Homo sapiens: one gene and its partner. The protein of the gene in region 2 interacts with the protein of the main gene of each other region in a biochemical or structural test. Each region holds a gene or a part of one and is shown on either strand. Other genes may lie near its edges.

Region 1 (3,500 bases), about 130 Mb from region 2:
GTATTTTTAGTAGAGATGGGGTTTCTCCATGATAGTGAGACTGGTCTCGAACTCCCGACCTCAGGTAATCTGCCCACCTCGGCCTCCCAAAGTGCTGGGATTTACAGGTGTGAGCCACTGCGCCTGGCCCCTGCCTGGAAATTCTTAAGAATTAAATATTATTTTCTTTGAGTAAGTAATAATGTCAGATGTCACAAAATTTAAAGGATATAGAAAGTTATGTTGTGCATAGTTATTCTACGTTCTCCTTTGTTCTCTAGCTACCCAGCTTCCTTTCACAGAGGGAAATGTGAATTCTTATGTATCCTATTTTGTGACGACACAAAAATATTTAAGGGTAGATGTGCTGGCCTTACTTTCTTGCTCAAATCTTCCAGGCTCTCCCTGGCTACCAGACTAAGTATATACAATTCTTGCTTCTGTGTCTTGCTCACATGGCTTTCTCATAGTAATAGTATGTTTAGTGGAAATCAAAAGCCAGTATTTTTAGGCCCCTGTAGGTGCAGGCCAGTGCACTTGGTGCAGCATAAGGCAAGTTCCTACCTTCAAGGACCTTATCTAATTGAGAGAGGCTGACATTTCCTTACTTTTATCTATTCCTCTTTTTTTTTTTTTTCCCCGAGATGGAGTTTCACTCTTATCACAAAGGCTGGCGTACAGTGGCGTGATGTTGGTTCACTGCAACCTCTGTCTCCCGGGTTCAAGTGATTCTCCTGTCTCAGCTTCCCAAGTAGCAGGGATTACAGGCATCTGCCACCACGCCCGGCTAAATTTTGTATTTTTAGTAGAGATGGGGTTTCATGATGTTGGCCAGACTGGTCTTGAACTCCTGACTGCAGATGATCCACCTGTCTCAGCCTCCCAGAATGCTGGGATTACAGGTGTGAGCCACCGCAGTGGCCAAGTTGAATTTCTTGTATAGATGTCTTATGTCTCAGTTTAAAAATGAGGCATGTCTTACTCTTGCCTATATATTTCCAGTGGGGCATGTCTTATCCTTTTTTATATATCTCCAGTTCTCAAAACCTTGTCTTACACAGCAAACATTAATCAGAGGTTAATCACTTATGGATTTAGTTTCACTCTACTGCCATCTCTCCAAAATGCTTACAGTAAAGAGGCTACACTTACTAAATTCAAACTTAGAACTTTGTAACTTAGGACCTGTCTGTTGGAGGAGGTAAGTTGCTTAAGCTTCTCCCTCTATTGGGCATTATATGTAGAGTGCTCTAGGTTCTGCCTGCTAGCTCCTTGATGACATTTGCCTGCTTTAGCAGGACACTGACTCTTCAGCTCAAGCAGCTGTTACCATGCTGGCTATTTCCTTTTGCATTCATAGGTTTTAGATATGGAAGAAAGTTATACCCAGAGAGAATGGGGGGATAAATGATAATCTTCTACCATTTTTGACCTTAGTCTGGTCCAGCATTATAGTGTGATTTTGAGAGGAGAGATTGTGATTTCCCTGGCTAGTATTATCTAGTATTGCCTGACAATGCAAAATGGACCCCTAGGCTGTCTTATGTAAGTTGGAAGGGGGCGGATTGGGGGTGGGGTGTGTGTGTGTGTATCTACAATCCAGTGACATTTAACAACATTCACAATGTCTTAAAACCATCGCCACTACTCGTTTCCAGAACCTTTTTGTTACCTCAAACAGAAACAGTACTCATTAAGCAAGAACTCCTCATTCCTCCCTATGCCCAGTTCCTCGTAACCCCTATTCTACTTTCTCTCTATGAATTTGCCTATTCCAGGTACCTCATGTAAGGGGAGTCATACACTATCTGGCCTTTTTTGTCTGGCTTATTTTACTTAGCACATTTTTGAGGTTTATCCATGTGGTGGTGGCATGTATCTGTATTTTATTCCTTTTTATGGCTGAATAATATTTCATTGTATGAATATATCATTTTGTTTATCTCCTCATCAGTGATGGACACTTGGATTATTTCCACCTTTTGGTTGTTGTAAATAATGCTGCAGTGAACATTGGTGTACAAATATCTGTTGGAGCCCCTGCTTTCAGTGCCTTAGGGTAATGCACAGGAGTAGAATTACTGGATCATATGGTAATTCTGTGTTTACTTTTTGAGGAACTGCCAAACTGTTTTGCACAGTGACTGCACCATTTTACATTTCCCACCAGCAAAGCACAAGGGTTCCAGTTTTGCCACATCTTTTCCAACACTTGTTATTTTTTCTTTTTTAATTTTTAAAGTAACAATCTTGGGCTGGGCACGGTGGCTCATGCCTGTAATCCCAGCACTTTGGGAGGCCGAGGCGGGCGGATCACCTGAGGTCAGGAGTTCGAGACCAGCCTGGCCAACATGGTGAAACCCCGTCTCTACTAAAAGTACAAAAAAAATTCGCTGGGCTTGTTGGCGCATGCCTGTAATCCCAGCTACTTGGGAGGTTGAGGCAGGAGAATCGCTTGAACTCGGGAGGCAGAGGTTGCAGTGAGCTGAGATTGCGCCATTGCACTCCACAAGAGTGAGACTTCGTCTCAAAAAATAAATAAATAAAATAACAACCCTAATGACTGTGAAGTGGTTGTAGGCTTTTTGCATTTTAAAAAATTATTATTTTTACTATTTTAGAGATGGCGGGGGGGGGGTCTCACTATGTTTACCAGGTTGGTCTCGAACTCCTGGCCTCCATTGATCCTCCCATTTTAGCCTCCTAAAGTACTGGGATTACAGGCTTGAGCCACTGCGCCCAGCCCTCCTTTTCTTCTTATTGCTACTTAGATGTAATGGGCAAACCAGAACCTTTGAATTTGGCTATATTTGGATCTGATGGGTTTTTTCCTCCCTCTTAAACTTGTGTATAATGTTGTTCAAAGGGATACATTATGTACACAATTAATGACATCTTTTTAAAAAGAACACTTTCTTTCATCCTTGTGAGGTGTAAGAAGAAAAATAAGCAAAAAAAAAAATGAATAAAGTTTTTCTATAAGTTGATACACACAGTTGTAGTTACTTTATACTCATACCCTTTTTTTGTGTTGTGAGTGACACAGTCTCACTCCATTGCCCAGGCTGGAGTGCAGTGGTGCGATCTCCACTCACCGTAGCCTTGACCTCCCAGGCACAAGCCATCTTCCCTCCTGAACCTGCTGAGTAGCTGGGACTACAGGTGTGTGCCACCACACTCAGCTAATTTTTGTATTTTTTGTAGAGATGGGGTTTTGCCATGTTGCCCAGGCTGATGTCGAAGTGCTGAGCTCAAGTGATTCTCCCGCCTTGGCCTCCCAAAATGCTGGGATTATAGGCATGAGCCACTGTGCCTGGCCTCTCATACTTTTTTATTCTATAATGTATTTAGGGCCAGCCTCTGTGGCTCATGCCTATAATCCCAGCACTTTGGGAGGCCAAGGAGGGAGGATTGCTTGAGGCCAGGAGTTCAAAACCAGCCTGGGCATCATAGTGAGACCCCATCTCTAAAACCAAAAAAACTAGTCAGGCATGTGGTATGCGCCTGTAGTCCCAGCTACT
Region 2 (3,596 bases):
TCCCAAAGTGCTGGGATTATAGGCATGAGCCCCCACACCTGGACACAAAATACATTATATACTCTAAAGTATAGGATTACTTTAAGAGAAGGAAACTAAAAGTATGATGGCTTACTTTGTAATCCATAACTTCACAGTTTTCCCTTCCTGCAGCTTTCACAGAAAAAACCAGGTGCCTGGTACTGGGTCCTTCTCTCTGCCAAGCAGGAGTAAGGCGGCAGAGCCAACCCTGCATCTGCAGTTAGAAGCTCTCCATGACGACAGGACGCAGCTTCTCACCCAACTGTTTGCAGCCTTCTCCTTTCCACCTACTGATTGACTCCTGAGCTGAAGCCTGGTGTTATCCTGTTTGCATGTAGTTTGCCATGAGTTAGAACAGTGAGTAAAGCTCTGCTTTTTAAAGCTGTGCAGAAAGATTCAAAAACTTCTGGAAAGGCTTTCTTATCCAGGGCAGATTCTTGTCAGTCCTTATTGGGGACCGAGATTTCATCTGGTTTCATAATAGATAGTGGGGACCTGCGGGAGACCCCAAGTCCTCTTCATTAAGTGCTGAGAATGTCTTGAAACATTTTCCTTCCCTGAGTTGCCCTTAAAGAATAACACCACCAGGCTGGATGCAGTGGCTCACGCCTGTAATTCCAACACTTTGGGAGATTGAGGCAGGAGGATCACTTGTGGTCAGGAGTTCAAGACCAACCTGGCCAACATGGTGAAACTCCGTCTCTACTAAAAATATAAAACTTAGCTGGGCGTGGTGGTGTGTGCCTGTAGTCTGAGCTACTCCAGAGGCCAAGGCAGGAGAATTGCTTGAACCCGGGAGGCAGAGGTTGCAGAGAGCTGAGATCGCGCCACTGTGCTTCAGCCTGGCGACAGAGAGACTCTGTCTCAAAGAATAAAAATAAAAAATAGCACCACCAGATCCTTTTCCCTCATTCTGATGGAGATGCTGCAAAAGCCAGCGAAGGCTGGGTGCTGAGAGACCTCAGAAGGCCCTGCTTTACTGGGGCTTATCTTGCAATGGAAGCCGTACCAGTGAAGGCAGTTGAACATATTATACAACCAGTGCCTATGAGATTATGTGGAAATCCACATATGTGTTATACTTACAGGCATACCTTTTTAAAGACAAGTTTGGGTTTAAAAAGAAACTACTTGGCATACTGTATATTAGGCTGGCCCTAGTATACCAAGTACACAGATTAAATGTAAAAGTATTTGTGGGCATGTGGATCTGTGGGGAGATTGCTGGAGTGTAGTGGATTCAGGAGACTCCCCCACCCCTTTAGGAGCTGACCATTTATGGGGGGTGTTGGCGGCAGATTCTTGCCTCTCAAAAGCATTATGTATTCATTTCAAAAGCAAAATTAATTTTGGTTCAGTTTAGCTTTTTTTCCTGATCCTTTAGAATTTCAACGTGCCTTCTTGAAAATTCTCCCTTTTTAGATAACCCACAAATTCATTTCTTTATATTTTCACTCCACTGGAAATGGAGGCTCAAGGAGGAGACAGGCAAAGCCGTCTTTCTTGGCCAACACTGCTCTCACCAGTCTATCATGGTCTTCTTTCAATGTCTGCTTTATTATAACCAGAGATGATAGAAGGAGGGTGGGATCACTGTCCCGAAGACTTGGGGGCGTATATTTTTAAAAACTTCTATGAGCTATGCCTCCTTAGCCTTCCCTCTCCACCCACATTCCTCAGGTTGAGGTTCCTGGGGCAGAGCTGGAAGGCCTAGTCTGTCTCATGCTCCTGCTGAGGAAGTCCAGCCCAGGAGAGGCCAGGTGCCCTGGCACTCCCAAGCAATTAAGGCCAGCTGGCATCATAGCCTTCCCATCCACCCCTACTCACTGACCCCGTCCCCCCGTCCCACCCACCGCAGTGGACAGCTGCCTGAATCCACTAATCTGGGGCTGGGTGGGTGTTTCCTGCATGTTTGAGATTTTAGGAGGAAATCAAAATAAAGAAACAAAGCCTTTGTTTTATTTCTGGACTCCCAACTGGGTATGGCTGGAGGGATGGAAAGCAGGGAACAGGAGGAGCAGGTCACTTGGCACTTCAACAAAATAACCATTCTAATAGAGCATTTAACAGGAACTTTTTCTATTTAGGGTTGGGGTGGGTAAATAGGAAAGACGGCAGGGCTGGGAGAGCCCCTTTGTGTGGAAGGAGAAGGTGGGGCCGCCCTTGCCCCAAGCGGGGCCTCTGGCAGTGCCTGGTGTTCAGGCAGGGAGGGGTCTGAGGCCACCCAGCCGGGCTGCAGAATTGGCAGCCTGGGGACTCAGGGACTTTCAGTCCTCCCTTCCTGAAGGAACCCTCTGCTCCAGTTCTGTCCCACTACTTGTCTGTGTGAATCTCCACCTCTATAGCCTCCTCTTCCATATCTGTAATGGGAGTATCCCAGCCACACTCTGGCCTTTCTTCTCTAGTCCAGTTATACTGGGTCAGGCTCTCACCTGACATGTGGAAATGAAGAGGTACATCCCCCAGTATTTCTTAATTCTTCCAAAGGATTTTCTCCTTGTAGAAATTCTCTGAGGGTTTCATTTATTTTCTTTAAAAATTGCCCAAGTATTGATGACAGCCCTCCCCATCTGCAGTATTTCTGAAGATTTCAGGGTATGGGCCATGCCCACTGGCCGCCTGGCCTCCACTCCACTTTGCCCCATGTGCATACAGTAAGGTTGGCTTCTTCATCTGCTAAGCCACTATTATTGCATGTAACAGGCATCCACCAAGGGCTTTTAAGAAAGGGAGTTGTCTGCAGCCCAGATCAGGGCAGAAGTTAAAAATGAATGTCAGACACCCTCCCCTTGCTTGCTCACACCCTTGGAGAATGTCTCTGTGGCTGTCTCCTCAAACCTAGTTTACTGCTATTTTCCAGGGACCAATTTTCCTGGATACTTTCCCCCAGACCTTCTGAAAACTCCAAATTTTCATTACTTTTGATTGCAGAACAAGGATAACAATCTGTCTTAGACTAGGCTGTGGGCTGCCCTTGTCAGATGTAAAGGGGTCTGGGCATGGTGGCTCACGCCTGTAATCCCAGCACTTTGGGAGGCTGAGGTGGGTGGATCACTTGAGGTCAGGAGTTCGAGACCAGCCTGGCCAACATGGTGAAACCCCATCTCTACTAAAAAAATACAAAAATTAGTGAGGCCTGGTGGCATGTTCCTGTAGTAACAGCTACTTGGAAGGCTGAGGCAGGAGAGTCGCTTGAATCCAGGAGGCAGAGTCTGCACTGAGCCAAGATTGTGCCATTGCACTCCAGCCTGGGCGACAGAACAAGACTCTCTCAAAAAAAAAAACAAAGATATAAAGGGGCCATTAAATAACTCATCTAAAAAAGAATTAGGCACTCTAGACCTTACCTTTACCTACAGTAAGAACCAGCAGAAGTGCTGGGATTATTAAGCTATCATTATTACTAGCCAGGTCAAATCAGTCCTCTCCTAATGACCAGGGCAAAGCCAGGTGTTATTTTTTCCCTTTCCTGTTAGAACATTTTGTAACATAAGGATTAGAGATGATGTAGATTGACAATATTTATTGAGTACCTTCTCTGTGCCAGATATGTGCTGGGCATTGGAGATACAGTG

Evidence for each region. Proteins that work in one complex are often made in the same cells at the same time.
Region 1: the proteins of MRAS (region 2) and RAF1 form a complex in vitro, tested with the Homo sapiens proteins (one study listed by BioGRID).

What each region holds. Positions count from the first base shown.
Region 1 is NC_000003.12:12,654,118-12,657,617, reverse strand, and holds part of RAF1 (RAF proto-oncogene serine/threonine-protein kinase), read left to right. Parts: intron 1-3,500. UniProt on the Homo sapiens protein: Serine/threonine-protein kinase that acts as a regulatory link between the membrane-associated Ras GTPases and the MAPK/ERK cascade, and this critical regulatory link functions as a switch determining cell fate decisions including proliferation, differentiation, apoptosis, survival and oncogenic transformation.
Region 2 is NC_000003.12:138,355,041-138,358,636, forward strand, and holds part of MRAS (ras-related protein M-Ras isoform 1 precursor), read left to right. Parts: exon of another isoform or gene 1-378; intron 379-3,596. UniProt on the Homo sapiens protein: Signal transducer in the Ras-MAPK signaling pathway that regulates cell proliferation and survival. Core component of the SHOC2-MRAS-PP1c (SMP) holophosphatase complex that regulates the MAPK pathway activation.